Linked DNA regions of Homo sapiens: regions 1 and 3 are each linked to region 2. Evidence: fine-mapped expression QTL. A gene starts in region 2. Each other region holds a variant in brackets. All regions are shown on one strand. Distances are from middle to middle. Region 1 has its middle 50 kb from the start of CHST2. Region 2 holds the start of U2SURP (U2 snRNP associated SURP domain containing). Region 3 overlaps PAQR9 (progestin and adipoQ receptor family member 9).

Region 1 (10,820 bases), 68 kb after region 2:
GGACTTGCCCTGGCCTACTTGCCTCTTCTGATTGCCTTGCAATGCATTTATTCTCCACTTTCTCTGCAACGTTTAGTTCTTTCCTTGCAGAGTGTTGGAGACAAGGTAAACGTGATCAGCTGCCTGGTCTTGGGTAAGGTGGTATTTTCTCTCTGTTAAATTTGTACAGATTCTTACGTTTGACTGAAACACTGCCCAATGCAAAAAGAAAGACTGGGGCAAAGAGATGAAATATTAGATATAATTACTTTCATAATCTTATATGTAAATAAATCTAGTTGCCAAACCTCAGGATCTTTGAGTTCTTCGGTTATTTTTTGTGGAATGTGATTTCCGTAGATTAATTTTGGACCTTGATCATCTTTAATGAATCTAGATGAGCTCATACAGAGCTTGAAAAGACAAAGTTCACAAAAGCAGAGTGCCTCTTTGAAAACCTGGCTTTTTGTTTTGCGTGGCCCAGCGGGACTTGCCCAACCATAGAACAAAATACCTGGACTCCAGAGATCCAAAGACTCCCTTCAGCCTTCAACCATTGCAAGGCAATCACTTCCCAGCTGTGTGGTCTCAGTCACGATGTTTAACCAAGGCCTTTTGAGCCCATTTCCTCATTTGCAGCGTGAGCATGCCATCTATTTTACAGGATTCTTCAACAAGTTGAGCATCTACTATGCACAGGCACTGGGGAAATACAGTGATGAATAGAACAGACAAGGTCCTTATGTCTTGGGACTTACATACAAATGGGAGGAATCAGACAAAAATTTGAACAAGATAATTTCAGATGGTAAAATGTACTGAAAAACAGGGTAGTAGGATAGAAAGTGAGGGAGGGGTACCTTTCTTAGATAGGGTAGTCAAGGAGAAACACTGGTGGTGAGGTTGAGTAAGAAGGTAGAGCTGGCTGTGTGAAGATAGAGCACCAAGTGTTCCAGGCCGAAGGTGCTGGAAGTTAGAATGTTTAGAGGGAGACCATGTTGGCGTGTTGAGAAATGGAAAGCAGTCAGTGGAGTTCAAGTGCAGTGAGGAAAGGATGGTGTGGTATGAGATGAGGTTAGGTAGGGCTTGACAGGTTTAAGCAAGGGAGTGAGTGACCTGATGTAGTTTCAAAAGACACTTCAGCTGCTGTGCAGAGACAGAATGGGAGAAGGACAAGAGAAACAGGGAAATGAGTTAGGAGGTTCTTGGCTGGGAAGATTAAATGGGATTATATAAATACAGTATCTAGCATGCCCCAAGCACATAGCAGCTCTCTAATAAATAATTTAACTCCTCATTTCCTTGGATCTTGTGATTCCTTTCCCTGCAACAGAGGTTGTATTCACCTTAAGATTAGCTTCACTTCAGTGCTGTTATACAGAAATCAAACCAGTAGATGATCAGGACATAGCACTCCTGTTGCTCTTAGGCTGGTATAGGAGGAAATTATAAATTGTGTTGACTACAGAAGCGTTAAAGCATTAAAGAATGCTTCTGTAGTCACTGGCACAACTACCTACTGCACTGTAGAGTGTTAATAGATGTTACTTGGAAAAAGGAGTTGTGTGATAAACTAAATTGGGAAATCCTGGGCTAAATTGGCTTTTTTATAGCAGTGCTTCTCAGAACCTTGAGTATGTACTGTGTATACCCAGGCGGGAGACATTACGTATTTTCCAAACGTAACTCAACTCAGAGGTCTAAGGTTCCACAAACATACTTTCGAAAACACTTTAGAACTGGGATTGGGCAGCTTTGTTTTTCAGAGTCTGATGATGTAATTAATGGGTTGGTTAGGTGTGTCAGGGTCTTTTGGTACAAACAACAGAGACCATCTGTAGCTAAATCAGGAAAAGAGTTCAGTGGAAGCCTATGGAGGCTCAGAGAATTGACAGTGCATCTGGAAGGCCAGATGTAGGAATCAGCAGGACAGGAGACAGTGGCAGGACAAGGAAGCCAGAATCACAGATGGGGGCAGTCTGGCCAGGCTTCAACCTTCAGCCTCTCTATCCATCTGCTGGAGGTTCCAGTTCTAGGAAGGCGGCACTTGATGGACCTAGCCTTTTGTGTTATAAACTTTTACAAAATGTAACTTTAATGACTACAAATGATCATTTACTGTAGGTTACTTTGCCAAGACCCTGTTGTTAGAAATTGGGTTGTTTCTATTTTTTTCTTTTCTAAGTAATGCCGTGATGAACATCACTTTGCATAACATTTTTGTTTTCATTCATTTAAAAATTATTGGAATTGTTGGGTCAAAGAATATAAACATTTCAAAGCTCATGTGATGCATGTTGCCAACTTGCCTTCCAAAAATGGACTATTTTTGACTTCTTCTAATGTTGGGGAATGGGTGCTTTGCTGCACCTTTGCCAGCACTGGGAATTTATGACATGTCATTTTAAAAAGTAATTCAAATTGGATGCAATTACTTGCTCCCAGCTGGGAATATTTCTGGGATCTATAAAACAGGGAAATTTTGGCAGGCTATAAAGATGACTGAAGTAACTGGTCTAGTCATCTGAAGAAATTTGTGAGTCTAAAGCAATCCCACCTGCCTCTTATGCCATACTGTGTGGCAGCCTTGTCCCTAGATCATAGATTGCTTTTGACAACCAAGATAGAAGGCCGAAGACTCCCAGTATGAATCTATTGTAACTGAGTTTTTTAAATAAGTCTCTATGCTATTTTTAGAAAAGAAATTGTATAATATAAACTTAAATGTAAGTCTTTGCGTATCTTCAGCTGTTTTCAGTTTTTATGTGTAATTTTGCCAGGTTAGTGTTTGTTTGCTGGCATATGGTCATGGGGAAACTTCTCCTCCCCTGTGACTCTTGAGCTGGAATGCTGTGGGATCCTCCTGCACTGGAAGTTAATCCGAAACTGGACCTTAATGTTCTTGTCCTCTAAATCTTATCTTGTGAATCATACTTCTCCTAAGCTTCCCACTCCCATCATCATGGGTGATGAGACACCTCCTACCTTCTGGGCCAAGGAGGAGCCGGGGCTTTTGATGGGGGTTTGCCCCTTTCCCAACAAGGGTCAGGTTAGGAGTGAACCTCCCTTAAGCCTCTACTCCGTCACCAAAGGTCAAGAAGAGAGACCTTCACTAATTAAAAACTGGTCATGAGAAAACCACAGACACCTAGCCCTCCCTCCTCTCCTTTCCCTTCTCTCAGCTTCTCACAACCTCTCCTATGTCATTTTCCTACATTTGACCAAGGATAACCCAGTCCTTCATCCCAGGTCATGCCAGTTATCACGAGAAGCCCAGACTCACAGGTTACCCCTCACCTCCGACATTCTCATGTTCTGTTCTTAGCAAAATTCTTCCTATCTTCATCCTCTTTTCTGAATGTTCCTATTACCTTCTGGTGTGATATCTGGACTCTGAAGTTTGGAGGACACCTGGGGAAGGTTTGTGGCCTCCATGTATAATCTCGTTTGGAAGTTTTAAGTTTGCATTCCCATGTGCAGGTGCAGCTAAAAGGCTCCCTCCCTTTCCGCAGTAGACATTGAGGTCTTCATGGATCAGGTAGCCCCATGCGCCTATGATTTCAAGGGTGATGAAAGATCCTAGACAACTTCCAGGGCATTTTCTGGACACATGCGTTTAAACTGGGTCAAAGCATCATGTTACCCAACAGGAATACATTCAGGCACTAATGCATTTGCATTCAAAAGGCAGCCTATTATCTCGAGAACGACCCTGGATCAGAGTCAGGCAACTTGGCTTCTTGCATGAACTGGCTGTAGGAGCTTGGGCAATTTACTGTCCTTGTACCTGAGTTTCCTTGAGTCAAATCACTGTTTCCCAGACACCAGTCCACCGACCAGCTACATCAGAATGTTATGGGGGGCTCTCAGAACTCAGACTGCCAGTCCCTACCTCTGAGATTCTGGTTCAGCAGGTCAGGGCCTAGGACCTGATGTATATATATTTTCTTTTAATTATGGAAAATTCAAACATATACAAAAGTAGAAAGACTAGTATAACATGACATGCACAGCCACTTTAATTTGTACTAAAATTCCATACATAATTTTAATTGTACATATTTTTGTATGTTTCTGTATAAGACATGGACTTTAGTGGCTACTTAATATCATGAAAAATCCTGATATTCTGAAATCTACAATTGTCTTACAAGGTTTTTTTGTTTGTTTTTGTTTTTGTTTTCAGTTTGCTTGAAGTCTTTCAAATGAAGTTCATGCATTATGATTAGTTAATATATCTCTTAAGTGACTTTTAAGCTATTGATGTCCCTCAGTTTCATTTTTTCCCCTTTAAACTTGTTACAGAGACTTGGTGGTTTGTCCACGAGACTTTCCCACAGTCTGGATTCTGCTGAACACCACAACCACCGCCCGCCTCCCCAAGTTTATTTTCTGTAGATCAGTAATTTAATCTAGAGGTTTGATCAGATTTAGTTCAAAAATTGTGGCACGTCTACTTCATAGATGAAAGCACTTCTTTCAGGGCCACATAATGTCTGCTTGTGTCTCTTTGTGACATTTGCAGCCATTGATCATCATTGCCTGAGTTCTCCAATTCATTAGGGTCACAACTGGTGATTCCTAAATTTATCATTTCTTTTTCACTTATAACTTGAGATAATATAGAGAAACTTCCTCACCTACTATTGACTTACTCCACAGTACAGTTCATATAAGAAAGGCAGCCTCAATGCTTGATTTTTTCCTTTATTTTCCAGTTTTCAATGTCACTTTCATGCTGGGATATTATTACCATTCTCTAAAGTGACCACTAAAGTTTTATTATTATTTTTAGTATTATTACAACCTCATGGATTTTATACTGATGTGCTTTATCCATCACAATTTTTTTTTTTTTTTTTTGAGACGGAGTTTCTCTTTTGTTGCCCAGGCTGGAAGGCAGTGGTGCAATCTTGGCTCACTGCAACCTCCGCCTCCCGAGTTCAAGCGATTCTGCTGCCTCAGGCTCTTGAACAGTTGGGATTACAGGCATGTGCCACCATGCCTGGCTAATTTTGTATTTTTAGTAGAGACGGGGTTTCTCCGTGTCAGTCAGGCTGGTCTTGAACTCCCAACCTCAGGTGATCCACCCACCTTGGCCTCCCAAAGTACTGGGATTACAGGTGTGAGCTACCGCGTCCGGCAATCCATCACAATTTTTATCCTTAGAATTCCCCTCTTTGGCCAATGAGAGCCTCTTCAAGTTGGCTCCTGAAGTCCCTTTGACACATGACATTACTCTTTCATAGCTTGTTTTCTGAAATGACAAATTCTCCAGCCTCATCTTGTACATTTTTTACTCCACACCTAAAACAACCATTTCTCCAAGGAGCTTTCGGGAACTCATATTATTTAAAGACTCTTCAGGTAATTCTGATGTGCAGCCACGTTTGGGAACTGCTAGGCATCTGAGGTTCCTTCCAACTCCAAAACACTTTTGTTTTTTCCTCTTGCTAATTAAAGTAGCAAACATATATTTGAAATGATTGTTAAACACTAATATGAAATAAAAAAATACTTCAATGATATATTCTTTTCCTTTGTGCATTGTGCTTTAAATTTGTACAATGTTTTAAATGCAATTTGACCAAATGTATTATGCTTTAAATATTTTCATACACTTTGACCCAGAAATTCTACTTTTAGAAATCTGGTCTAAGGAAATTTTTTTTTTTTTTTTTTTTTTGAGACAGGGTCTCACACTCTTGCCCAGGCTGGAGTGCAGTGGCACACACAGTTCACTGCAGCCTCGACCTCCCCTGGCTGAGATGATTCTCCCACCTCAGCATCCTGAGTAACTGGAACTACAGACATGTACCATCATGCCCGGCTAATTTTTGTATTTGTTTTGTTTGTTTGTTTGTAGAGACAGGGTCTCCCTATGTTGCCCAGGCTGGTCTTGAACTACTGGGCTCAAGCAATCCTCTCACCTCAGCCTCCCAAAGTGCTAGGATTATAGGCGTGAGCCACCACACCTGGCAGAAAACAATTTTTAAAATATAGAAAAAGAGGCATGCATCAGGGCTTATTTGCAAATTGTAAAACATTAGACATAGCTCTAACATCCAAAAATCGGGAGCAGTTTGTAAGACTGCTAAGAATTTACTGGAAGGAATATTATGAGGCCATTAAATGATGCCTGGGAGGACTATGCAGCTGTTGCACAATTGTATTTATGATATGTTAAAATATGCATACGAATAAAGTTTAAGATGGAATATATCAAAATGATAGTAGTAGGTTAGTAGACTTTACAGATGATTACTCCCTACACTCTGTCCTTT[T/C]CCACAATTTTTGCAAAAATTACTTAAAACCTGCATTTTAAGATTCTGTAAGTCTAATATTACATGATTAACTGACTTGCTGTCCTTTGTCATTTAGAAAGAACAGGGCTTAGGAAAGGAGGAGGCACAGAGTATAAGTCACAGTCCAAAGTTTGGGGCAATACCTGGGGAGTATTGGGACTGGAGGAGGAAGCGCTGGGCTGAGAAAGGCCGGTGGGTGTGACAGTGGACATGACTCTCCTGCCTTCCCTGCAGTTTTGCCTGAGCGCATGTCTTTGTTATGCTCACCAACTCATCAGCTAGGAGCAGGGCTTGGAATCTCTGAAAGTTCCTTAGTCTCTCTCTTGGACATCCCAGGCATTTCCCCACTGGGGAGTACTGTGGATTCATTTTCACACCAAGAAAATCAACAAATGCAGCTTGCTGGGGATGACTGTCCAGCCTGGCATGCTAAGGAATTTGGTAACCAAGGGAATCAATAACAATTTGTTTGGGCTTGTACTTTTAATGATTTAGACTTTGAACAAGCTCCTTTGGATTGTATTTATTGGTATATGAGGCAACTTTTCTCAAATCCTTTCTCACATCTGGAAGCCTTTCCCTGGCTTTCTCTCTCTTGACAGGAGGTGGCACCTGAGGTGAAGCTGAGTGGGAGGAAGGATAGAAGCCCTGGCTGGGACTGCTAGCACCCACCCAAGCCCCTTTGACCCCCATCTGCTGGCGTCTACTCCGCTTATCACCCTAGCATTTCACCCTCACGGGAGAGATGATGCTTGAGGGGTAAGGACGGAGAGGCAGACAGGAGCCACATTACAGAGGACTTGGAATGCCAGGCTGAGAATTTTGGACTTTCTTCTGTAAGAGCCACAGGAGCTTTTAAGCAAAGGAGTGACGTGGTCTGGCATATAATTTAGGAGAACCACTCTGGTGCAGACTGGGGAAGACGTTGGTGTGAGGTGAAACCAGCGTGAGGGCCGCCAAAGCTAGGCCAGGTAAAAGGCCGTAGGTAGTAATATGGTAGAATGGTAGTAATATCCCAGCATGAAAGTGACAGAGCTGGCTGCAGCAGAAAGGATGGGATTGATTCATCCATGGAGGAAAAGGCTGCTGTTAGTTACCAAATTCTGTTGTCTTTTCCTCCTTGGCATGTGGCTGGACCACTTGTCCTATGGCTGCTATAACAACCACAAACTTAATGGCTTGAAACAACATACATTTGTTTTCTTACAGTTCTGGAGGTCAGAAGTCTGACAGTGCTGGCAGGGCCGCTTTCTCATGGGGGCTTCAGGAGAGAATCCTTTTCTTTGCCGTTTCCACCTTCAAGAGGCCACTTGCATTCCCTGGAGTGTAGCTACTTCTGCTTTCAAGGACAGTCACTCCAACCTGTTTCTATCTTCATGTTTCCTTGTTTTTGATTTGTTCTGTTTTGTTTTGTTTGGCCCTCTTTGCCCACCTGTATAACCCAGTATCATCTCATATTAAGACTGTCACGCGCGTTCGTGTGAAGAGACCACCAAACAGACTTTGTATGAGCAATAAAGCTTTTTAATCACCTGGGTGCAGGCGGGCTGAGTCCGAAAAGAGTCAGCGAAGGGAGATTAGGGGTGGGGCCGTTTTATAGGATTTGGGTAGGTAGTGGAAAATTACAGTCAAAGGGAGTTGTTCTCCGGAGGGCAGGGCCCAGGGTCACAAGGTGCTCAGTCAGGGAGCTTCTGAGCCAGGGGAAGGAATTTCACAAGGTTAATCGCTCAGTTAAGGTGGGGCAGAAACAAATCACAATGGTGGAATGTCATCAGTTAAGGCAGGAACTGGCCATTTTCACTTCTTTTGTGATTCTTCACTTGCTTCAGGCCATCTGGATGTATACGTGCAGGTCACAGGGGATATGATGGCTTAGCTTGGGCTCAGAGGTCTGACAAATACTCTGACCTTAATCACTCCTGCAAAGTCTCTTTGGTACTTAAGGCAACATGCTCACAGGTTCACATAGGGATGAGGACATGGACATTTTTGAGAGCCCTTATTTTGTCTACTACACCACTGTTCCCAGTCTGGCCAGAGAAATGGGACCTCTTTTTCAGGCCTGGCCCACAAAACCTCCCTTGTCCTCCATGTCTTTCCTTTTCTCTGTGCTGAGGACCCAGAGGGGAAGCAGAGCCAAAAAATGGGGGCGCCTGGGGCCCTGGATGACCAAGCAAAAGGCTAGTCATTCATAACTGGAAATTTTCACTTTACAGTTTATACACTCTAAATTTTTAACATTCTTATTATCTCTTATATTATTAAGTATGTGTAGAATTTAAAAATACCGCTGAGGAACATACACACTGGGCCTAGTTCAGTGGAGAATAAGCCTCTGTGTTAAGCCGCTGTTTAGTCAAGATAAAGATAGGCTTGGAGTCTCCGATGGAACCCTTTGCCTTTGAGGTGTCAGGTGGGCATCCCAGTCCATATCCAAAGTCCAAATGTAAAAGTAAGAATACATCTGTTACCTCAGAGTGAAAAAATTAATAAGGCAATAGATCTAAAAGATCATAGATCTAAAAGATTCATAAATGTTTCTCCTCCTTTCTGTTTTTAAATTAGGTTTTCATAGGAACCGATTTCTGGGGAGAACAACATATTTTAGATGCAACAAATTCATCTGCAGTCAGGCTTAGATCAAGCTTCGTGAGAGGCTTCGCGGCAGTGGGGGTGGAAAATGGCAGGGATGAGACCATGATGGTGTAAGAGGGAAAGGGCTGGAGGAACAGGGCAGGGGTTTAGGGCAGCCCTCACTGGTGGTCCACGTTTCTGAAGGAAAACAGCTTTGGTTAAGGTCTGAAGTATTTTTCAATTCTACACATACTCAGAAATAATATGAGGTAATAAGAATGTTTAAAATGCAGCCCCCGCCCGGCCAGCCGCCCCATCCGGGAGGGAGGTGGGGGCGCCTCCGCCTGGCCGCCACCCCGTCCGGGAGGTGAGGGGCGCCTCTGCCCGGCTGCCCCTTCTGGGAAGTGAGGAGCCCCTCTGCCCGGCCACCACCCCGTCTGGGAGGTGTACCCAACAGCTCATTGAGAACAGGCCATGATGACGATGGTGGTTTTGTGGAATAGAAAAGGGGGAAAGGTGGGGAAAAGATAGAGAAATCAGATTGTTGCTGTGTCTGTGTAGAAAGAAGTAGACATGGGAGACTTCATTTTGTTCTGTACTAAGAAAAATTCTTCTGCCTTGGGATGCTGTTGATCTATGACCTTACCCCCAACCCTGTGCTCTCCGAAACATGTGCTGTGTCAACTCAGGGTTAAATGGATTAAGGGCGGTGTAAGATGTGCTTTGTTAAACAGATGCTTGAAGGCAGCATGCTCGTTAAGAGTCATCACCACTCCCTAATCTCAAGTACCCAGGGACCCAAACACTGCGGAAGGCCGCAGTGTCCTCTGCCTAGGAAAACCAGAGACCTTTGTTCACTTGTTTATCTGCTGACCTTCCCTCCACTATTGTCCTATGACCCTGCCAAATCCCCCTCTGAGAGAAACACCCAAGAATGATCAATTAAAAAAAAAAAAAAATATTTAAAATGTAGAGTGCATAAACTGTAAAGTGAAAATTCCCAGTGGCGATGGCTAACAATTTTTTGTTCAAGTTTCCTGAATTGTTTTTCTGTTCATGTACTCATACACGCATGCCCACCCGCCTCAACGTTTTCAACTTGCCTTTGATACTTATGAGATCTTGGGTATACTTCCTGATCATTACCTATAAATCTGCCTCATTCTTTAATTACTATTGAGAGACATTTAAGCTGTTGTTATTTTTATTTTTTCTTATTACAAGCACCGTAAGAGTGAATAGGCTTTGAGCACTGGGAGAGCTCCTCGGGGAATCTATCCACTGAAGAATAAATCTCTTGGAGTGAAATTGCTGCATCAAAGAGTAGGAACATTTTACAACTTTAACAGCCATTTAACATTTCCTCTAAAACTCTCATACCAATGCCCCTTTCTTGAGGGGCAGAAGTTGTAGAGTCAAGGAGGGGCTTGGAGCAGAGGGAGGATGGATTCTTGTTTGAAAACCTGAGGGAGACAGGAGGCTGGGGCCCAGAAAGAATCAGAACTCACTGCTCTGAATTGCAGGGGCCCAGGGGCCAAGCCCTGGGGAGAAGGGCCATGCTTGATCTAATGCTCCACTGTCACTGTATTGAAATTCTTAATTTTTTAAAGAGAGGCCCCACGTTTTCATTTTACACTGGGTCTCTGGAGGAAAACCGGGGCGGGGCCAGTGAGTACTTGTCCTTGTGGTGAGGGAGGAGCTGCATGGACCGCAGTTGGCTTGAAGTCTTGGGAAAGTTGGACTCCTAAGGAGGAGGCGCTCAGTGCACCCAGCTGGGGTCTGAGGGCCATCGACCCAAGGAGCAGCTGGACTGGGGGCCAGTAGGAACCTTTGTATATTGGCTCCCTTAGAGTATCCTAAAACAGTGCCCCAGTGGTTCTAGAGTGTGGTCCCTAAACAAGCGGCATCAGCATCCCCAGAAACTGGTTAGAAATGCAGATTCTCGGCCAGGCGCGGTGGCTC
Region 2 (10,820 bases):
GTTAAGTGAGGCCTTATCTTTGGTGGTCCAAGTCAAGCCCACCTTTGGGTTGCCTGGCCATGGCAAGAGAGAGCTCCCCAGATTTGCCGTGTGCTGGTTCTCATGACCTGCCACAGGAACCTTGAGTCCTCCTTTATCACACTCACACACACACACACACACACACACACTCAGGAACGCTCATTTCCATTTCCACAGTACGCCATCTGGACTCTCCTAGATTTTATTAACCTTGTTGATAAAATAATTCCTACACAGTAAAGGTTTCCTTCTCACTAGGATCATAGTTAAAATGGCAATTTCTATTATTTTCAACATGGCACCAGTGTATTCTTGGGCTATATACTTTTTGACATCATTTTTAAAAAAATGCCACTGCTAATTATTATTATTATTATTATTATTATTATTTTTTGTAGAGACGGAGTCTCGCTTTGTTGCCCAGGCTGGAGTGCAGTGGTGTGATCTCAGCTCACTGCAACCTCTGCCTCCTGGGTTCAAGCATTTCTCCTGCCTCAGCCTCCTGAGTAGCTGGGACTACAGGTGCACGCTGCCATGCCCAGCTAATTTCTTTTGTATTTTAGTAGAGAAGGGGTTTCACCATGTTGCCCACGCTGGTCTCAAATTCCTGAGCTCAGGCAATCCACCTGCCTTGGCCTCCCAAAGTGCTAGGATTACAGGCGTGAGCCACTGCGCCTGGCTGCCACTGCTAATTATTATTGTCAAAGGAATCTGTATATAATCAATAAGTGAGTCAGGTAATTTTTGTGTGTGTGAGAAAGGGGGAGCAGCTGCTGTTGCTACTAAAACCTTATTCATAACACTTACGTTGTGGGGTGGGTGTGGGGCAGGCAGTCAAGTGCAGCAGAAGGAATTTTCCATTCCACACTGACCACACCTCCGTGAAGGCTGTTTCCTAATTATTCCTAGAAGCAGCTAGGATCTGTCTTAGCAGAAGACATTAAGTCTGATTTTTAGTTGTCTCTCCTTTTATCTTCTTTCTTCAGAGCCTAGCACAAGCTAGAAACTCAATAAATGCCAAAGAAGCAAATGGAGTGTTCCTTTTACCAGCCTATATCCTGAAACCCAGAGAGCAGGGAAAAACTGTTTAAAAACTGTCTAGAATGAAAATGCCACCAAGTAGGAGCAGTCCATTGGCACAATACAGGAGGCTGTAGCTTTGGGGCAATCATTTTTTAAGGTCTCTATCTTTCAGCATGCACAGGTTCCACAGCTGTTTGTATTGTTAAATACTTTCTCCACTCCACTTTTTTCCTCCTTAAAGAAATCAAAACATTTTTGGTGGGGAGGTCTAAAAATTATTGTGAGCCCTAGGCACTGAGTCTCCTGTACCTTACTAACAAGTCAGTTCTGGCTGGTGCCTGGGGGAACTGGTTGGTAATGTTTTGATCATCACCCCAGGTAAGTATTACACTGTACATCAGAAGTAGAAAACTGAAATGCCTACAAGCAGGCTGGGTATGGGGAATTTGTCCACCGTGTATGATGAGTTGGTGGCTAAACTGGTGTTCATAGCCCCCTTCCCTAGAAGTCGCTGCAGGCCACCTCACCTGGATTGTCCCCCAGTGTTGCCAGACTTCCCCATTTTTCAAGAAAGGCTAGAAACCCTGAGTTTTATGTAAAATCTCTCTGTTTTAAAATGCTAGCTCAAATTTCAAAGAAAAAATCTCCCTGAATGAACCAAACAAAACATCTCAGTATTGTATATGGCACTACTTTGTAATTTCTCTTGAACGTATCTGCTGCAGGGAGAAGCCTTAAAAACAAATGGCAGGTGTGGGCACCAGAAAATCAACACATCGGGAAGAGAAAAATGGCATGGTTTTACTGTAATTGTAAAAAGGTAATACTAGTTGCAGTAAATTGCATGATTCTTACTGTTTATGTGTAGTCCCTTAGCACTAATCTAATTATTCAGATTCCATAAAATTCCATTTGGATTATTTTCATGCTATTTCACTTTCCTGAATTTGTAATTTGAGTAATAGGGCCAGAATTTCATGACGTAATAGGGCCAGAATTTCACGTATCAAGAATTCTTACTCATAATTGTGATGTTCAATTTTTTTTTTTTTTTCCTGAGATAGGGTCACTCTGTTGCCCAGACTGGAGTGCAATGGCAAGATTCCCAGTGCTCTGGTGGTCCTCCCACTTCAGCCTCCTATCTGGGACTACAGATGCATGCCACCACATCTGGCTGATTTTTAAATATTTTTTTGTAGAAATAAGGTTTTGCCATGTTGCCCAGGCTGGTCTCGAACTCATGGGTTCAAGCCATCTGCCTGCCTTGATCTGCCCGCCTTGGCCTCCCAAAGTGCTAGGAGTACAAGCCTGAGCCACTGTGCCTGGCAATGATTTTGAATTTTTAAAAGCGTACTTAACCCTTAATAAAGGCCCGTATTATTTCTAGTCACATCATATTTGTCTGACTTGCTTTGGGGCTTACAATATAAAAAAGAAGAGAGGAAAGAAGTCTGCATTCTTTTGTTTTTGACTCTTCAGGAGTATTTAGTAAAAATTATTTTTAAAATAAGTAGGACTTTGGGGATTTGACTGAAAAGCTACACATATTCACTTTCTAGTGACAAAATCAGCCTGTGGCATTGTCAGAACACCACAAGGCATACCCAGTCCCACTTCTCCTCTTCATCTCAGCTGATGATTTCACTTTCTAATCCTATAAACAGTTAAGATCTAGGCTGGGCGCGGTGGCTCACGCCTGTAATCCCAGCACTTTGGGAGGCCGAGGTGGGTGGATCACGAGGTCAGGAGATGGAGACCATCCTGATTAACATGGTGAAACCCCGTCTCTACTGAAAATACAAAAAATTACCCGAGCGTGGTGGCGGGCGCCTATAGTCCCAGCTACTCGGGAGGCTGTGGCAGGAGAATGGCATGAACCCAGGAGGCGGAGCTTGCAGTGAGCCGAGATCACGCCACTGCACTCCAGCCTAGGCGACAGAGCGAGACGTCTCAAAACAAACAAAACAAAACAAAACCCTGTTAAGATCTAGTGTGCTGAGCTCTTCAAAGTGGTAAAGTATAGGTTCCTTGGAAACAGAAGGGTCTCTGATTTAGGATTGGTGGGGAGGGAGGACTGTAAGCCTTCCTGGAGGAAGGGACATCTTCACCCAGAGTAGAATTGGATTAGACTTCAATGAGAGGGCAGGGCAAGGTTGAGGGAAGAGGCCCAGAACTGAAAAAGTATGACAGAATCCAGCAGTAGAAGTAAATTGAATTGGGTTGGAGGGTGCAAGTCATTCTAATTTCATGTGTAGCACTTGTCACTTTCAGATCATTTCTTGTTTACTGTCTGTTCTTCTACCCTCATACCCTCACAGAGAATAGGAGGCCTGGCCTGCTGATTCCTTAGTGGCTGGCATATATGTCTGTTAATCTTTCTTGAGAGCCAGCCTTGTGTCAGATCCTGTTCTAAGTGCTTCCCTCGCTCCCCACCCCCGCCATTCAACAAAATTCTACTTCTTCAGAGCTGGTTCAAATGCTTTCTTCTCTATGACCACCCCCCCCCCTGCCCCGCCCCGTCTCTTTTCCTCACTCCTACTCTCAGAATTAATTACTTCTTTCAGAGGTCCCTCAGCTATTGATCCTTCCTTGCAGCATCAATTTAATTATGCATAGTGTCAGTTTGCGGTTTCCTTGTCTCCTCCATTTCTCATTAAGTTTTAAATCATATGAAGACAGTGCATGTTTGTCTGTCTCTGTAAGCCCTACAACACTTTGGGCAGGCTTTTACACACAAAACGGGGCTCAAAAATATTTTGAATAAATGATTTAGGGAGAGGTCCACAAACGCCCTCCACTCCCACCCTAGTCCTCAGAGCAATACTTTAAAATAAAAATCTGACCATTTCAACCTTGTTAAAGGCCGATCTTCATTCTGAGAACAGAATTCTAACTCCTAAGCACGATGGTGACCTCAGGGCGCTGTGTGAACCTGCACCCGCACCCCTGTCCAACCACGTCCCTCCCCACACCTGGTCTAATAAAACGACTGCTTTAGGTGACCTGCACGATCGGCTGTACTGATTCATGCCACAGGCTTTTACCTCAATTACTCCCTCTGTCTGGAATGTCCTTTCTTTCCTTGCCTGGCCTGATTCGGGCATGGCCTTCTCAAGCAAGCTTTCCGTCTTTGAATCTAGGCCCTGATTAAGAACTTTTTAAAAAAGTACTAAGTTCAGAAAAGTTTAATATGGTGTTCCCCCATTTATGTGATTAAAAATGAAAACAATACTAAAGTGTAAAATGTAATCTTTAAAATGTCACACAACTTTACATGCATGCTAGATTTAGAATACCATCTGTATTTACGATTTTCTCTTATTGACTGTCTCCACGCGCACCCACTCTGCAGACGCCCTAAAGAGTGTCTATCGGATCACCCTCAAGTTGGGTCAAACGGCTCCTCTTCTCGGCTTTTCGGGAGCAACCCTATCTCAACATTCACCATCTTAAGATGAGCAGACTGCAAGTTTGCCTCTCCCACCAGTATGGGAGCTGCCGAAGCGGCAAGAACAGCGTTTCCGTCCATCGAGCGCCAGGTCACCAGTCAGCTCCAGTCCTATTTTGAGTTGAAGTAAAAGCTCCTCCCTAGATGGCCAGTGCACGTCTTTAAAAAGCGACTCCTTTCCCACAAAGGAAATACGACTGGTTCGCATCTATCAAGGGTTGGCGTTGGGATAAGAGGGTGAAGTATCAGCTGGCCCTGATTCTCTGAATTCCCGGACCCAATAACGCGACCAAGCACCGTGACTCCCAGGAAAACTAGCGGAGTGAGCGCGGCTGAGGAAATTACTGACACCGGAAGTCACGTGAGCGGCTGCCCCTAAGGTCGCTATCTCGACAGTCGACTATTCAGCCTTGCAGGCGCCTCTGGCGGGCTTCACTGAGATCCGCTCTTTCGGTGCTCGACTCGCCCGTGCTGCTGCCGCCGCCGAAGGAGGGGCAAAGCTCAAGATGGCGGACAAAACGCCAGGCGGATCTCAGAAGGCCAGTTCAAAGGTAATTTCTGACAAAATTTCGTAAGTCAGCGGATCTACCACTGTCGTTTGGGGCCCACAGACGCTTCTGGCCTGTGAGAGGCGATTGGGATTGGGGTCTGCATTCTAGTCGCGACGGTAGGCCCGGGCGCCGCCGCACCGTTGTGCGCAGGTTGAGAGGCCTGGTATCTCCCCATAGTCCCAGCCGGGATTCAGCTCGAGACTGGCGTGCCCAGTGGGTGGAGGCGTGAGTGCTTCGGCCCGCGCTTGGCATTGGAGTGAAATCAGGAATTCAGATTGAGGTCTGAAGCAGTGAAAACGCTCTCCTGTATCTCAGCTTCCTGCGCCCTGAGGCCGCCAGACAGCGCCTGGGAGAGAGGCGGGAATCGCTTCCCGGTGCTTAAATGTCTGCTGCTTTTTTCTCGGTTTTGGATCTCACTCACTTCCGGCCTCCCTCAGTTTCCCTCCAAGGAATGAATAACCTCTAGGGTCGCCAGCTGTGAGGGGAGGACCACTAGGGCAAAGACACGGAGTGGGAAATGCAGAGGCGGGAGCAGCTCTCCTTTGCAGTGCTGCATAGCCAAGGTTAATGTACAGTCTACACGTGGTCTTTACCTTAACGGGAAGTAAAAAGCACTTTTGAGGGTAGAGGACTCGTGGTCTCTTTCTTTATGTTGAAGAAACAGTGAAAAGAGAAGCTCCGTAGACTTGTAAGCTACATACGATTAGTAAATTGCATTTGTGTTTACAGGGAACCCTGGGCACGTATTGTGAAACCAGTGAGCTGTGGTAGTAGTTAAGCATTAGTACGGTTGGGTTCTTAGTTGCCATCTTGGGCGGGACATTTAATCGTTTTTTGGTTTGGGTTTCTGGTCTCGAATATATTAAAAGTAATTGGTACTGCCACGAGGTAGTTAAACTTTCCGATGCTGATGCAAGAAGCTGTGTAACACTTTCAGGTGCTAGGGACTGTTAAATCTTAAAGAGTGTGTGACTGTAAATCGGCTATTAGAAAGTTAAATTTACGGTAGGAGAGAAGCTTGCGTTTACAGTTCTGAGAAACATCATAACTCGTTTTCTACTTGCTTTCTCTAATCCGACTGTTTATGCCATTTGGTGAACGATGTACACCAAAATAATTAATTCATAATTAGTAATGGTCTTAACAGACATCGTTTAGTTACATAGAAACTTTGGTGAGGGGCCAGTTTCGGCTTCTTTACAAGGTATTGTGTCAGTTTTTTTTCCCCCTCCTCAGTACATTTTCTCGTCTCCCTCTCTTTGGGGGCGAGCTCTACCAACTCTTCTCAACAGACTCCTGACAAGAACATACCGTTAGGGAGCTATTACTAAAGCTAGCTACGTTCATAACAAGTCGTGCATAAGCCTCACAATTTTTGTTTCTTCTCAAAGTAATATTTTAAGTATTCCCTACTTGAGGTCTTGGATACATTGAAAACATTTCAATGTCTGTGTTCAGGCTTCCTTCTAAAATAGTGCTTCTCATGACTGAATGTATGGCTGTTCTCAATAAATAAATTATTGGATTATCCAGTAATCTTTTCTGTTTATATTGCCTTAGATTATAATCTCTTGATGCTATTAGCAGATTTCTTACTGATGTCTGTGAAAGGAATCAGAATATCTTAACTAATTTGGAGGCTGCATAATGTAGTGGGAAGATTATGAATTTTGTTAACAAGAGATTTGGGTTCAAATCCTGACTTGGTAATTAATTATATTTGCGATAATAAGGCAGATTGCTTAAACTCTGGAGCCTCAATTCCCTCATTTGTAATGTAGATATAATTCTTTTTTTACATGGTTGATATAAGGATCAAATGAGATAATGTCTATGAAGTACATAATAAATCTTAATTTCTTTCCCCTCTTTTTGTTTTTAGAGGAAATCAAAAGTTCTTAGCTTTCAAAATGTCAGGATAAATTTTAATCCTGTGATTTGGAATCTAAGTCATCAGCTGTCATAATGACTGCCCAGATAGCTGCTTTTTATTTATTTTATTTCTTTTTTTTTTTTTTTTTTTTTTTTGTGAAAGAGTTTCGCTCTGTCGCCCAGGCTGGAGTGCTGGAGTGCAGTGGCACAATCTCGGCTCATTGCAACCTCCGCCTCCCGGGTTCAAGTGATTCTCCTGCCTCAGCCTCCCTAGTAGCTGGGACTACAGGCGCCCGCCAGTACGCCCGGCTAATTTTTTGTATTTTAGTAGAGACGGGGTTTCACCATGTTGGCCAGGATGGTCTCGATCTCTTGACCTCGTGATCCACCCGCCTCAGCCTCCCAAAGTGATGGGATTACAGGCGTGAGCCACCGTGCCCCGCCCTGCTTCCCTGCTTTTTATTTCTAACACATAATTTATTAGAGAAATTGTAAGATCATTTTGGCTAATACTACAGTATTTAGAATTTCTAGCCTTTGATATCTGGTTTGATTTCCTTTCCTCTGGAAAGAACAGATGAGTGGCTTATATTTTACAATACAGATGGAGTGAACAGATACTTCTGTTTCATGATTCGTCGTTTTCTTTGGTAGTTACATTCCCGTTAATATGGATAGGGATGCTTATTATATTTCTAGACATTGGGAAAATGTTAATTTTAAATGTACAATATGGCAAAATTATTAACATTTCTTAATTATAAAAAGATTAAATTAGATAACCTCTACAGGTCTTCTAGTTGGGGTGTTTTTTTTTTTTTTTTTTTTTTTTTTTTGAGAGGGAGTCTTGCCTTGTCGCCCAGGCTGGAGTGCAGTGGTGCAATCTCAGCTCACTGCAACCTCTGCCTCCTGGGTTCAAGCAATTCTTCTGCCTCAGCCTCCCGAGTAGCTGGGACTACAGGCGCCTGGCCAATTTTTGTATTTTTAGTAGAGATGGGGTTTCATCTGTTGGCCTCTTGACCTTGTGACCCCCCCCCCCCGCCTCGGCCTCCCAAAGTGCGGGGATTATAGGCGTGAGCCACCGTGCCTGGCTTCTAGTTTTAAAATGATACTTTATGTATGTGTATGTACTTGAATGACTTACCTTTATTCATAATTGTCCCTAATGAAGAGACCCCTGTGCACTTTAATTTTCTGTGTAATTTTGTTGTGCTTTGCATTTTAGAGCCTGGCAGATGTAGACATTTAACAAATGTTCTAGAAATGAGCTAAAATTTTCCTGTGCATTTGTTTGTTTATCACTAGTCTAAAATATTGCTTGGTTGGGGAGGGGTGTTGATGTTATGTAGTAGCTTTCATTTTGAGAGGAGAGAGAGAGAGCCTGTAATTGTTTACTTATAAAATTGTTAAGCATATTTCCTTAGAATTTAATTTATAAAAAAATTACTGTTTTTGACTGTCAATTGTTTGCTTACTCAGCAAAATTAGGATATGAAGAAAATGTAGTATTTTCTTTCCTTCTGCCATCTCCTGTGCTGGTAATATTGCTAATGTAATGTAATTGTGTGCCCTGCTATTTCACTCTGTGACTATGGCTTTTTTTTTTTTTTTCTTTTTTGCCGTATCGCCAAAAATTGAGTTAGGTGAATGGATAAAACAAAATACTACAGGCTTCCTTGGACATCCAGTGCTGAATTGCTTTGGGAACTGTTTTGATTGACTGCCTTTGCTGATTAACAAAAAGTATCACTTTTAAGAAATAAGTAAACTGAGGACCTGTTCAAGGCTTGTGAACCTTAGGTATTTATTACTGCCAGTTTTCATTTTTTGTGGTACCTGAAAGTTTATGAAAAAGTCCAAACAAAATACAAACCTTGAAAATCAGGCTTTCAAACAGTTTGCCAATTTTAAACTGAATCTTTATTATGGTTTATGGTTGTAACCTTATCTTAAAATGTAAGGTAGTTTTTTTGGTAGAAGGTTTTGTTTTGGTCTGGAAGGTAGAACTGAACTTCCTTCCATTTTCTCGATTGATAACTTTTTCGAAACTTGAACCTGCAGCACGGGTGCTAGAATATGCCTGTTGGTATGGTTTTAAAAATAATTCCTATCTTTCTGGATTGAATTGTTTTCTGAAAGTCCAGTTTTTATTTTCACTTTTTGTTTTTTATTTCTGAAGCTTTGTTTTCCTTGGAAAGTAAACCTAAGAAAGATACCCATTTGCCTTACTGGGTATCATTGAGAGAAGAGCTCATTTAGTATGCCGGTTGAAGTATCTACCCCTCTACCCTCCACCCTTTTTTTCAAGGAGCCATCATTTTTGGAATAAAAAGAAAAACTTGCTACAAGATATTAAAATCAAAAATAGTAATATTACAAACTATTTGCCTCATTCTAGTATAGGTGGTTTTAACATTTTATTGCACATCAGCTGTGAGCTGGATATTTTGCTGAAATAACGTTTTTGAAAGCAAGATACATTTGTCAGTAGCACTTGAGGCTAACGGTAGTGTTAGACATATATTCCTTGAGTTAAGTTTTTTCACAAGGCCCTTCCTCAGTTTAGATAAACTATAGGTTATTCAGAGTGTACTTACAACTTTTCATATAGTATTGGTAGTGTTTTGAATAATTTAAAAAATCATCTTAGGTTTGTTATTTAACTTTATTTATATAGTGCTTGTATTAATGATTTTGTGAATGTTTTTTAAAGATGGATACCTTGATTTGGCTTGGATAGTGGTATTAAGCTAGGTAGCTGTTGTTAATGAGTGGACAGCATAGTATGTTGATAGTGTGGAGTGTAATTTTGTTTGGTGGTAGGCACTTGTTCTGACAAGTCAAGTATATTGAGACTCTGTCGCTTGCCAGATCTTGTGCTTGATGTTGAGTTAGAAAATGTTAAATAAGAATGTACCCATTTTTAGCGGCCGGGCACAGTGCCTCCCGCCTGTAATCCCAGCACTTTGGGAGGCCAAGGCGGGTGGATCACCTGAGGTCGGGAGTTCAAGACCAGCCTGACCAATATGGAGAAACCCCATCTCTGCTGAAAATACAAAATTAGCTGGGCATGGTGGCACATGCTACTCGGGAGGCTGAGGCAGGAGAATCGCTTGAACCTGGGAGGCGGAGGTTGCCGAGAGCCGAGATCATGCCATTGCACTCCAGCCTGGGCAAAAAGAGCGAAACTCCGTCTCAAAAAAAAGAATGTACCCATCTTTGAGGAGCATGCTGTCTAGTAGAAGAGAGTCAGCACAATGCAATTAAGGTGGTGTTATGCTTCCTATAGGAGAGATTGTTAAACTTGTGGAGATGAAAGTTGCTTCTCTTAGAGGGTGAGAGGAGAAACGTGGGAGATTAGGAGACAGATACACGAATGGAGAGCTCACTAGGCAGAATGGTAGTGTTGGAGGAATGTTGCTGTGGATAGCTTGGTAATTTGGAAACTCAGATGTGGGGTTTTCACTTAAAGTAAAATTGGAGCAGCCAGAAGAAAACTAGTTTTGTTCTCAGCCAGCAAGCTATAGGGCAACAGGTAGTGTAGTTGGCTTCACTTTTATCCCTTTAGCAGCCATCAGAATGATCTTTTTTCCTTTTGGATTTTCTTGCTGTCCCTCCCCACATTTCTACTGTCTGCTTTCTCTGCCTTAAAATAAATTTCTCTTGTGTATGCTACTTTATTGTGTCAAACTTCCCTTAGTCTGCCTTTTCACTTCTTCCTTTTGTATTTTTCTTTTCTTTTCTTTTTTTTTTTTTCCAGAGACAGGGGTTCTTGCTATGTTGCCCAGGCTGGTCTTGAACTCCTGGCCTCGAGCAGTCGTCCCACCTCAGCCTCCCTAGTAGCTGAGATTATAGGCATGAGCCACTCCCTCCAGCAGCTTTTGGGTCCTTTCAAGAGATTTTTT
Region 3 (10,820 bases), 50 kb before region 2:
AGAGCAGCCCTAAGGGCTGCTGGTTGCCCATTTTTATGGTTATTTATTGATTGTATGCTAAACGTGGGGGGGGGGGCGTTATTCATGCCTCCCTTTTTTAGACCACATAGGGTAACTTCCTGACGTTGCCATGGCATTTGTAAACTGTCATGGCACTGGTGGAAGTGTAGCAGTGAGGACGACCAGAGGTCACTCCCTTTGCCACCTTGGTTTTGGTGGGTTTTAGCTGGCTTGTTTACTACAACCCGTTTTATCAGCAAATTCTTTATGACCTGTATCCTGTGCCGACCTCCTGTCTCATCCTGTGACTTAGAATGGCTAACCTCCCGGGAATGCAGCCTGGTAGGTCTCAGCCTTATTTCGCCCAGCCTCCTCTATTCAAGATGGAGTTGCTCTGGTTCAAACGCTTCTGACAATACCACTATGAAGTAAGAAATACTTCCCGCTCTATTTTACAGATGAGGAAATGGAAGATGAGAGGCAGAGTAGGTTGCCTAAGGTGATAAGAGGATGAAATAACGGCGCGAGAAGTCGAACCCACTCCAGATCCGCCCATGCAAGACACAAGAAGCCACAGGAGGAGGAAGGGGCAGGCGGGAACTTAGAGCACCTTGGCGTGCCCAGCCCGGCGCCTACTCCCTCTCCTCTGCGCCGCTGGAGGCCTCGAGTTCGTGTCCTCTCGGCGCCTGCCTGGCTCCCCTTCCGAGGCCGCAGCGCCCTGCCATGCTGGCCTCCCCGCGCTCTCCCTGAGACCCAAGCCGACTCCCAGGCCGACCCCGCCGCCTGCGCCCAGCTGTGTCGGATCTACCTGCCCGCGACCGAGGAGCTCAGGGACTGCCCCAGGAGATGCTGCCTCGCCCGACAGGCGCCCCGGCCCCTGCCACGCCTCCCGCGCCTGGAAAGCACGACATCCCGCAGGCAGCATATCTGAGCCTGCATCGGCCTGCGGGAGTCCAGCCCGAGCCATTTTCCTGCCTGTCCCCACTCCTGACAGCCTGTGCCCAGTTCCCCTCAGCTCTCCCATGGTTCTCCAACGGTCCTTTCTGGGAACCCTTACAGCTTGGAGATCGTCTCACGGTGACCAGGGTGTTTCTGAGTTGTGTGTGTGTGTGTGTGTGTGTGTGTGTGTGTGACCACTGGAATGTCAGAATCCCCCATCCCTACCTTGGAAGTCCCGCTTTTTCCTCCCTACTGTTAAGGAACTTCAGACTGCCCCTCCACAAGGTTGCCTGCCTGGGCAGTCATCCAACTCCATGTCCACCGCAAGGACAGTGGGGACAGTGCACCAAGACACAAGGACCAGGCTGGACCCTAAGATGCTCCGAACACCTGGGCAGCTGTTCCAGACACACCGTCCCATTTTTCAGGATGGCACCTGTTTCCTGTTAGAGATTTCTTAAGGGAGATTGTGAATAATCACCAGTGATTTTAGTGGCAGCCAAGTGACACTGAAGCTTGGCAGATGTCTGTCAAAACCAGCTACGGGACTGGACAGCGAGGACCAGGAGAAAAATGTTTGTTTTTTTTAAAAGATACTCTGGTATTCGTATGACAAGACCCATTTTGTTATGCCCAAGAACAAGGGGAGAACCTCATCTTCGCCATACTTGAGTCTGACTCAGTGTGGCTGTGACTCATCCTTCTAGGACAGTTCCCCTGCCACAATAGCGCAAATGATGGCCTGGGGACTAAAATGACTTTGTCAAACAGTTGAATGGAGAGAAAGTGGTAGAGTTGCCACCTAATGCCAAGAACCCCCCCACCCCCGAGCTTTTCCTTTTTTTTTTTTTTTTGAGACTGAGTTTCGCTCTTGTTGCCCAGGCTAGAGTGCAATGGCACGATCTTGGCTCACTGCAACCTCCACCTCCCGGGTTCAAGCGATTCTCCTGCCTCAGCCTCCCGAGTAGCTGAGATTACAGGCATGCGCCACATGCCTGGCTAATATTTTTGTATTTTTAGTAGAGACGGGGTTTCTCCATGTTGGTCAGGCTGGTCTTGAACTCCCGACATCAGGTGATCCGCCTGCCTGGGTCTCCCAAAGTGCTGGGATTACAGGCGTGAGCCTCCACGCCCGGCCAGCTTTTCCTTTTAAGCTGTTCTCTTTAAGTTCATTGTAGCCAGGTTTCATGGCGAGGCACCATGATTTATACCACTGGCCCTGGATCCCCTCACGTGTTTATGTGACAAACTGGCACCTGTATATTAACAAGCTTTACATTTGGCAAGACATAGGTAACACCAGAAATCAAAGTGAGGGGCTTCTGGCAGGATTTCACATCTGCTAGCTTTTATATTTGATGCTTTCTCTAGGAGCTTGGCAAAAAGAAAACACCAACATCAAAAGTAAAAAAATCAAATCAAAACAAAAAAATCAAACCAAAATAAAGATAACAACAGGCGAGAACTGGGACACGATCTTCTTATAGTTGGCTTATTACCTGTATCTGTAGAATTATTTATTTCCTTAAACCTGTTTCCTTTTGTACTTTATGACATTTCTGTGTAACTAAAGTAAGAATCTGAGAGAACTCTAAACTGATATTTATAGATCCTACCCTCAAAACAGATAGACAGTGAGGTAGGGATGAACTAATGCAGTCAATCACTGAATTAATAAGAGCTGGAGTAAAAACTAGGCCATTAGCTTCACTCAGGTCATCCTGAAGTAGTAAAGTAGCTCTTAGAGAATTACATTTTGTACTAATAAATGTTCACTTCTGCCCACCTTTCAGTTTTCCACATATATTTTTACAACTGCAAAGTATCAAGATAGAGAGAATGGACATTATGGGAGCAGGCAGGATGTGAAACCTCTTATTAATCCTATGGCTTAAAATTTATTTATAAATTGCAAAGTTAATCAGTTTCCTTAAATCTTCCATCTTCCATTTCTTTTAGGAATTTTTTCAGCTCTTAAGAAAAAAGTTTTTGGAGGTCAGAAACTGATAGTGGACTTCTGAGAAAGGGAAGAGAGAAAGTAATTCAAAAGTCTTGTCTCTATGTGGAATATCATTTCCTTTCAAGCTGCAGAGTTTGAGTGGGTGTTTATTTGATCCTTCTGTTCCCCTCTCCCTTTCTTCTTTTTGTATTCCCATTAAGTGTAGGTTACACCTTTTGTAATTGCCCCACGGTTCTTGAATATTCTCTTCTGATTTTTTTCTAGTCTTTTTTTCTTTGTTTTTCAGTTTTAGAAGTTTCTAGTGACATAGCCTCAAGCTGATTCTTTACTCAGCAGGGTCTAGCCTAGTAATGAGCCCATCAAAGCATTCTTCATGTCACAATGTTCTTGATTTCTAGCATTTATGCTTGATTTTTTTCTCAGAACTTTCATCTCTTTGTACGTTATCTGTTGGTTCTTGCATATTGTTTATTTTTCCATTAGAACCTTTAGCATAATTATTTTAAATTCCCAACCTGATAATTCCAACATCCCTGTCATATCTGAGCCTGTTCTCATGCTTGCTCTGTTTCTTCAAACTGTGTTTTTTGTCTTTTGGTAAGCCTTGTAATTTTTTGTTGGAAACTAGTCATGATGTACAGGGAACAAAAGAACTTGGTACTGGTTCTTGCAGAAATTTCTTCTTGTGGGTTCCTGCTCTGTTAAATTGTGATTCTCTGTGTCTACCTGTTATGTCTCTCCAATTTTGGGGGGCAGCAGTTTGCTCTGTGACTTCATGTCTCTGATGGACCCAAGAAGAGTTGTTGATTTTTCAGTTCAGCTTTTTACTTGTTAAGATGGAGTGACAACTTCTAAGCTCCTTACATCCCATACTGGAAACTCTTAAGTCCTCAGTCAATATTCTTTCATTACAGGAAATGGGAACCTTCTGATGAGCTTAAGGTGGGAAAAAGGAACAAAAAATAAAGAAATAATGTATTGAAAGGCTATGGGGTAACTCAGAGAATTATATGAAGACCTGTGCAGGCAAGTCATGGAGAATAAAGAATTGAGAGAAACTCTGGGCTTGCAGGGCTACCTTGGATTGCAGTCCCACCAAGCTTCAGTAGGAAGGATTATTCCTCAAAGGAAATTCAGGGCACTGCTAGCAGAAGCAGAGGGATGCATTACAGGGATAAATACCTTTGTCCAGGGAAAGAGGAAACCAAGCAGTGCTGAGATCCTGACTCACTCTGGCCATTCCCCACTGGAATGGAGGACCACAGTTAATATTTTAGATCAAAGACTTACAGGATTCTCACCCAGTGTTAGAATTCTGAATACTCTTTAGTGAATTTTTGGTTATTAGGGGTTGAATTTATATATGAACATTATATAGATGACATTGATACATGAGAATAGCACTTATTGTTCATAGGATTTATTTTATTTTAGTTATTTTTATTTTTTAATTTTCTATAAAGATGGGGTCTTGCTATGTTGCCCAGGCTGGTGTCAAACTCCTAGCCTCAAGTGACCCGCCTGCTTGGCCTCCCAAAGTGCTGGGATTACAGGCATGAACCACTGAACCAAG[C/T]CTGGATTTATTTGAGACTTTTTCATTTGACATATATTCTAAGTATCCATATTGTGTCTCCCTTTACCCATTTTAAGTAAACATTATGGAAAAAAATTCCTAGGTAATTATTTTCCTAGTGTTTCTTTTTTTGCTTTGAAATAGAATCAAACTCTCTGAAGTAGCTGTCTGATTCAGAACCTGCTTTGTTTTGCCAAGGAAAATTAAAGATAAAAAATTCAAGGCCCAGTAGACTACTTGCCAATGATTGATTTGGGGAATAAAGAGCATTCCTGATCACCATCCTTTTCTGCTTACCTGATATATCAGTTTGGGGTCAATTGCAGACAACAGAATCTACTGAAGCTAGTTGGTGCTAAAGGGGATTTATTAGTAGGCATTGGTTGGCTTACAAACTCACTAGAAGAATTACAGGAGTGGACTCAAGGTTTTCTGAACAAGAATTAGAATGTCTCTAAATTGAGCAGGAAAGCTGACAGAAAGTGGCAGAACCAGGAAGCCACTGACCAAAGTCCTTCAGCTATACCGGTATAGATGCTCTATCTTCACTCTTTGAGAAAATTGATGTCAGGCATGAAAGTCAGCAGAGGAGACTGTAAAAGAGTAGTACAAAAGTCACACAGGCCAAAGGAAGAGTGTTTCAAAGAGAACAGAATGGGAAAGAGGATCTCAGAAAAGTCTATCCATCAACAAGGAGGCTGATGGAAATCTTAGAAGAATCATTCTAGTGAGCTTAATGAAGCCAGAATGCAGTGGGTAAAGGAGTGAGTGGGAGGTACGAAAACAAAGGCGGTGTGCACTACTCTTTCAAAAAAGCCTGGCTGTGAAAAAGAAGGGGGGGGGGTGTTGTTAGAGTGTGACATAGTGGGGAGAGGGTGACTTTCTCATTTTAGAAGGTGGGAGAGACTAGTAGTACATTTTTAAATTCTTGTAGGAGGAATCCTATTGAGTAGAAGTAGTTGATGAACATACAGGAGAACAATGTGTAATGGATAGAGTGTGGTTCTTGAAAAGGTGGGAAGTGGTAAGATCAGAGTTGAGGAGAGGGTGGGAGTGGTAGGGTCAGATATTTAAAATATCTGCAATAAAGAATGGGAGAGAGCAGTTCAGGCATCACTTCGGGGTCACTGGGTAGCTTTGAATCCTAATACAGCATATCTGTACTTAAAAAATGAAGTATCACAAATATCTAATAGGTAGATTCTAAAACGTGGGACTGGCTCAGTCATGGTGGGATGGGAGCTGTGCAAATCCTGTTATACATGGCTGAGAAGTTAGCAAATTTTATGGATCTGTTAAGATACTTCTGATTACAAGGCATAAATATAACTTAAACTCAATTGTAAAATGAAGGAAATGTATTGGCTCACATGGAAAAGTCCAAAGGTGTAGAGGTGGGCCTCAAGCACAGTTTGATCAAGGCTTCCTTTGTGAGTTACTTTGTTTGGCCCCACTCTATGTTCTGGCTTTCTTCTTATCTTGTCTTCCCTCAGGATTACACTGTGACTGTTAGTAGCAGCCAGGGCTGAGGATTCCAGGAAAAAACAAGAAGAGTGGGGAGGGACAGGAAAACTTACCTGCCTTCTGCTGCTTTTTGTTCCAATCCAATCTTCCGTGATTTGTCCCCTTGGCAGAACCTAACAAAAAGCCAGAGGGCAAGAGAGCTGAGAATCAGCTCCAATACAGAGCAGATGAAGGGAAGTATGGGAACGTGAATCTAAAAGCAAACAAGCAGATATTTGGCACAGGCTCAAGAGATACGAGACAGCCCAAATGGAGCAGCCCTCTTAGGAGTGGCCCTGGAGCAAGGTAGACAGAGATCTTCCCAGCACACAGAACCTGAAGAACTCATTCCACTACCAGCTTGTGGAGGCCTTGGCCATCCTAGGCCACAGGGGGTGATGGCTGCCGTATACTGGTGGCACAGTACGCCATTAGAAATGGTATGCTGTTCGGGGTGGGAGTTTGCCTCTCAGCTAGCCAATTCTCCACCTTTCTACAGTGAGTTGGGGGTGGCTGAATGTCTTATTTAGTCACATCCTGACCTGAATGAAGGGAATTCCCTTCATTCACATGGAGAACCTGAGTGCTGGAAGTTTGCTGCTGTTCTAAGTGAAGGCAGCTTTGGGTTGTCTTTGGGAAAGGGGACAAGAGTGCTTCGATGGTACAAATAAAAGTTGTATTACATTAAGGAAAGCGTATATAAAAAAGGAGAGTGTGTGCTAGCCAGCTAGGGGCTGGGCTGTGGTTGCTATTGTTTTGGGCTGTTAGCATGGTTTTCTTCCCTCCTCCACATGCTCCGGAGCTTTAACAGGGACCCCACACTGGTAAGACACTTGGCTTGGAAAGCACTTTACACAGTGCACATGGCTCAAACCGCCAGTCTCCCATGATCTTTGTCCACACACTCTTCAGGAGTGTGGATTATAGTGGAATGCCTGTGGACCAGACAGCCAATGGGTTGGATGAAGTGGACAGCTGTTGTTTTTGTCTGCCCATCATCCCTTCCTGTGGGAACTAACCTCCACCCTCCATGCGGTTCTGGAAAGGGCTCAAATCACAGGCACCCATACCTTGTCTCTAGAGGAGTCCATGTGACCTCAGGTAGGCCAATCTGATACTCTTTTCCAGGAATTTGAATTGGGGACAGACACAACAAAGCCAGGAAAAAGCTGACCATGGCTCATCTGGTGGCAGTGCCCTGAAGCTAGTTTATCTGGTGGCAGAGCCCTGGAGAGGCAGGGGTTTCTCACCAGAATCTCTAGCACTGCCCTGCTCCCTTCCTTCCTGAGGCCTGGGTGGTCAGCTATGTGCACTCCCCAGTGTTCCTCCTACAAACCTTTTCTTCCTTCATGAGAGTTTTCTGTTCCTGATAACCAAAAACCTCTGAAACAATAATTAACATGATTTAAAGACTTAGCCATCACCACAAAGTTTAAGAGTTGAAGTTGGATCTCCCTTGCTGGGGTTATTTAGGACAGAGATACTGTAAGTTCACACACATCACCAAGGTTCTGGGACAAGATGTGTTACACAGAAGCCCATGGACTCTATATGCTTTTGAAAAACAGAAAGGTGGAAGAAAACATTTCATAACCTGGGTTATATAAGTATTTTCTTACAAGATATGGCTTCAAAGTAACACATGAATTTTCTTTTTAATTTATCTAATATGATAAAAAAGTAATATACTAAGGGTGCTTCAGGATAAACTTATACTCTTGCCTTCTGCCTGCTGCATTTTATGAAAAGGGTAATGTTTTTTCTTATCTTGTTTATTAGTGTTATGAATATTTTACTGTTAATTTAGGAATACCCTGTTGCTGAAAGATAACTGTTGGACATGCACAGATGTGTACGATCCTAAACACTGTGCTTACAAATAATTTATTCTTATTTCATACATTTGTTTTTCAGCAAAAATGCATAGTCATATTATTTACACAGAATTTCATATTCAAGACTGTAGGGAACAAATGTCTCAGGAAACCAAAATCATAGCAAATCATACAACAGAAATGTGTCACATTTTTTTTTCAGCTACATGCACAGAACTGGCCAAAGTGATACCTATTTCTATAGATTATTTTATCACATAATGGAGAATTAAGATTAAGTAACGCTTTTCTGTTAGAATACACTATTGATTTGAAACCACATGTTAGTCCATGCCTGGAAGCTCACGTATCCTGAGAATGCCTCTCTTGCTAGCTAAATACAGTTCTTTAGGGTGTAGGTAAGGACTGGAGTAAGGGTAGCCTAAAAAGAATGAATCTGGCAAGCAATGGGAAAAATTTCTTTGTGCGCGCATCATTTTTACTCCCTTCTTTCTCCGTCATCACCCTTAAATGAACTTAAAAACAAAAACAAAAAACAGACACATGAAGGTCTCTATTTGATCACTGTTAACTCTTCCCTCTGCCTCTGACCTGAGGAAAAAATGAGTATGCCCCTTCAAGTATAATGCCCTTTACTGCAAAAGGGGACCTGCTGGTTGTACATTCTTGCAAATCCAAGAACAGTCACCGTATTTAAAACCTTTGTTTGGAAATGGGTGAACCTCATAAGGCAGATGGTTGGAGAAGGCCTAAATACACATGGAATCCTTTTAGAAATCTTTTCTCTTCAAGCTGGATATGTGGAAAGTGAAGTTTCAAGGGTAGTGAAAATGGCCTGGGAGATGGCTGAAATGAAGAGAGTTCAGAGCGACCACATGGTCTATACAAATTAAAAAAAAAAAAAAAAAAAAAAAAAAAAAAAAAAAGCAGCCACAGAATCCTCCCCCAGCCCTGAAACACAGAAAGCCTTTTTCTGGTCCATATAGTGATGGCATGGGGCTTATTCTTCTTTCTATTCTGAAGAAACAAGGGACAGAGTTCCAGGGCTGTACATTTTATTGGCTACGTTATTCACCATGCTTATAAACTCATCAAAGTGAAAGGTGCCTCACCTCTTTATTGCCTTGGTACTCAGTTGATTGGCGAGAATAATTTTGTTCATAGCCTCCAGAAAAGAAAACTAGCCTGTTTGAAAAGTAGACCTTCTGTGCTAGGTTTTGCTGGAAGAGGGAATTTAATAAAGTTTCTAACCAGAATTTTTAAAAAGACTTTTAAATTTAGCCATGAGACACACCTAAAACCTATCTCATGTGTTTTCTTCTTTTTTAAAAAATGATTTGTATCCTTCTTTAAACTATACATTATTTACATTTTTAAAGACCTACTAGGTCTTTATCATTTGAGTAAGAGCTCAAGGTGATTAAACTCACCGGATAAAGATGAGTCTTTCCAAAAAGCTCTGGTTCTCACTTATGTGCTAAGGCCTGTTTTTACAAACAAATGTCTATTAGAAACTTTACAAATATAAAATTAAAATACTTTTTTAAAAAATTTTCCCAGGAATTTTATTTTTTGCATCCAGCATATTAAAAACAGATTATGCTTTCCAACTAGAGATGGAACTAAGAAGAAATGAAATTGTGTCCCCATGCTTTATCTAGAAACAAGAGTTTATTTACACAGTGTCCTTCTTCAATATCATGGTGTACTGGGAGAAGCAGGGCCATCTTTACAGCACGGCCAAATGACCACCTGAAGACCCCCCATTCTGCCTTGAGTGCTTATTGCGTATTTTGGGTGGAGGTATAAGGCATGAGGGAAAGGTGGCCTGTCACTTTTACACATTGGAGAATAATTTTGCACATTCAAGAAATTTTCCTTGAGAAATGCCATGTTTGGAATAGCTTCCAGAGATTGATTGAGAACAAAAGCATTAAAGCAAGTGCATTACATTTAGAAGCACAATACATTGGGAAACATTCTCAAAAGCTCAAAGAGCAGGCTGTTTTTCCACTGAGCTAAATAGTAAATAAGTGTGCATACTGTTGCATATAGGTATATGTTCAGAGCTTTCAAAAGTCACATCCTGCCACAATTAACAGCTAAATGAGCATTCTTGGCCCCTGACCTATAAATAAACACTCTAATTCTGCAACTTGCTCACAGATTCTTAAGGAGCCACTCTAGAACAAAAATGCCTACAAACTGGTTAGAAATCTGCAAACCAGAAATGCAATACAGTTATCCTTTTTTAAATGACAACAACAGAAATTTATATTAGCTTTTGGAAGAGTGACTAAGAAGAACTGACATCCATTTTCACAATTAAGAAATAATTATTCACAATACCGAAGAAGCCAAATCTTCAATAAGAAAACGTGTGGCCTCTCACAAAAGAACACAGTAGTGCTCAGCTCCAACCACTGAATGCTTCCTTTTTCAGTTTGTCTAGGCTTGTTCGCTTTTTGTCAGGTGATATATGTCAGAGAATATTGACAATCCTTCAAGAAAATGATTCAAAAGGTGATGTACAATTGGCTGGTGCTATCCCGTAATGCCTTTTTGCCTCTGTCCTAATTTTATGGAAACAAAGTAAGGGCTTTAAGCCAGGAGATAAATGTACCACTCAAAATATACCTGGACACTCGTGCTCAGGTCAAACGCTACAAGATGTGGTTAAGCTGACAAACAGAATTCCTTGCCTGTCTACTCGAACACTAACACCCTGGGAGTTCACATGCTTTTCTAAGGACAAAATTTAAAACTCAGGCTGACTGCACAGTTGAACTTGCTGCCCCATTCTGACTGTTTGACTCTAATCCTCTTTGTTCTCCCCTTCCCATGCATTCTTCCTATCTTTTTTACCTCTGACACTTTTTAATGATTTCCTCCAGATTAATGTTTTCTAAGACATGTTTCATAAGTTACAACACAAAGATCCTAAAAGGCTAGAGAGCATTAGTTAATCTCAGTTAATTTTGGAGATCTAGCCATTTACCTTCTTATGTAT

What was found. PIP is the estimated chance that this variant, and not a neighbour inherited with it, causes the effect.
Region 1: its variant is the best candidate, but not a certain one, in a credible set for the expression of U2SURP in whole blood (INTERVAL, PIP 0.72).
Region 3: its variant is the best candidate, but not a certain one, in a credible set for the expression of U2SURP in whole blood (TOPMed, PIP 0.75).

Annotation. Positions count from the first base shown.
Region 1 is chr3:143,064,572-143,075,391 of GRCh38, forward strand. No RefSeq gene overlaps it. Among named protein-coding and RNA genes, the nearest start is that of CHST2, 50 kb to the right of the region's middle. RefSeq lists enhancers at 7,657-8,439, 9,222-10,003 and a silencer at 7,804-8,002. The variant T/C (reference allele first, on the strand shown) is at 6,264.
Region 2 is chr3:142,996,631-143,007,450 of GRCh38, forward strand. U2SURP (U2 snRNP associated SURP domain containing) reads left to right here and starts at 4,940. Exons shown (of 28, transcript NM_001080415.2): 1 at 4,940-5,043. The coding sequence starts at 4,999. It overlaps PAQR9-AS1 (PAQR9 antisense RNA 1), which reads left to right. Exons shown (of 5, transcript NR_125393.1): 4 at 1,770-1,864; 5 at 4,397-4,460. It overlaps LOC100289361 (a long non-coding RNA gene), which reads right to left and starts at 4,837. Exons shown (of 1, transcript NR_034032.1): 1 at 4,215-4,837. RefSeq lists enhancers at 2,378-3,378, 4,378-5,377, 4,652-5,301.
Region 3 is chr3:142,946,742-142,957,561 of GRCh38, forward strand. PAQR9 (progestin and adipoQ receptor family member 9) reads right to left here. Exons shown (of 1, transcript NM_198504.4): 1 at 7,844-10,820. Among named protein-coding and RNA genes, the nearest start is that of PAQR9, 12 kb to the right of the region's middle. The variant C/T (reference allele first, on the strand shown) is at 4,473.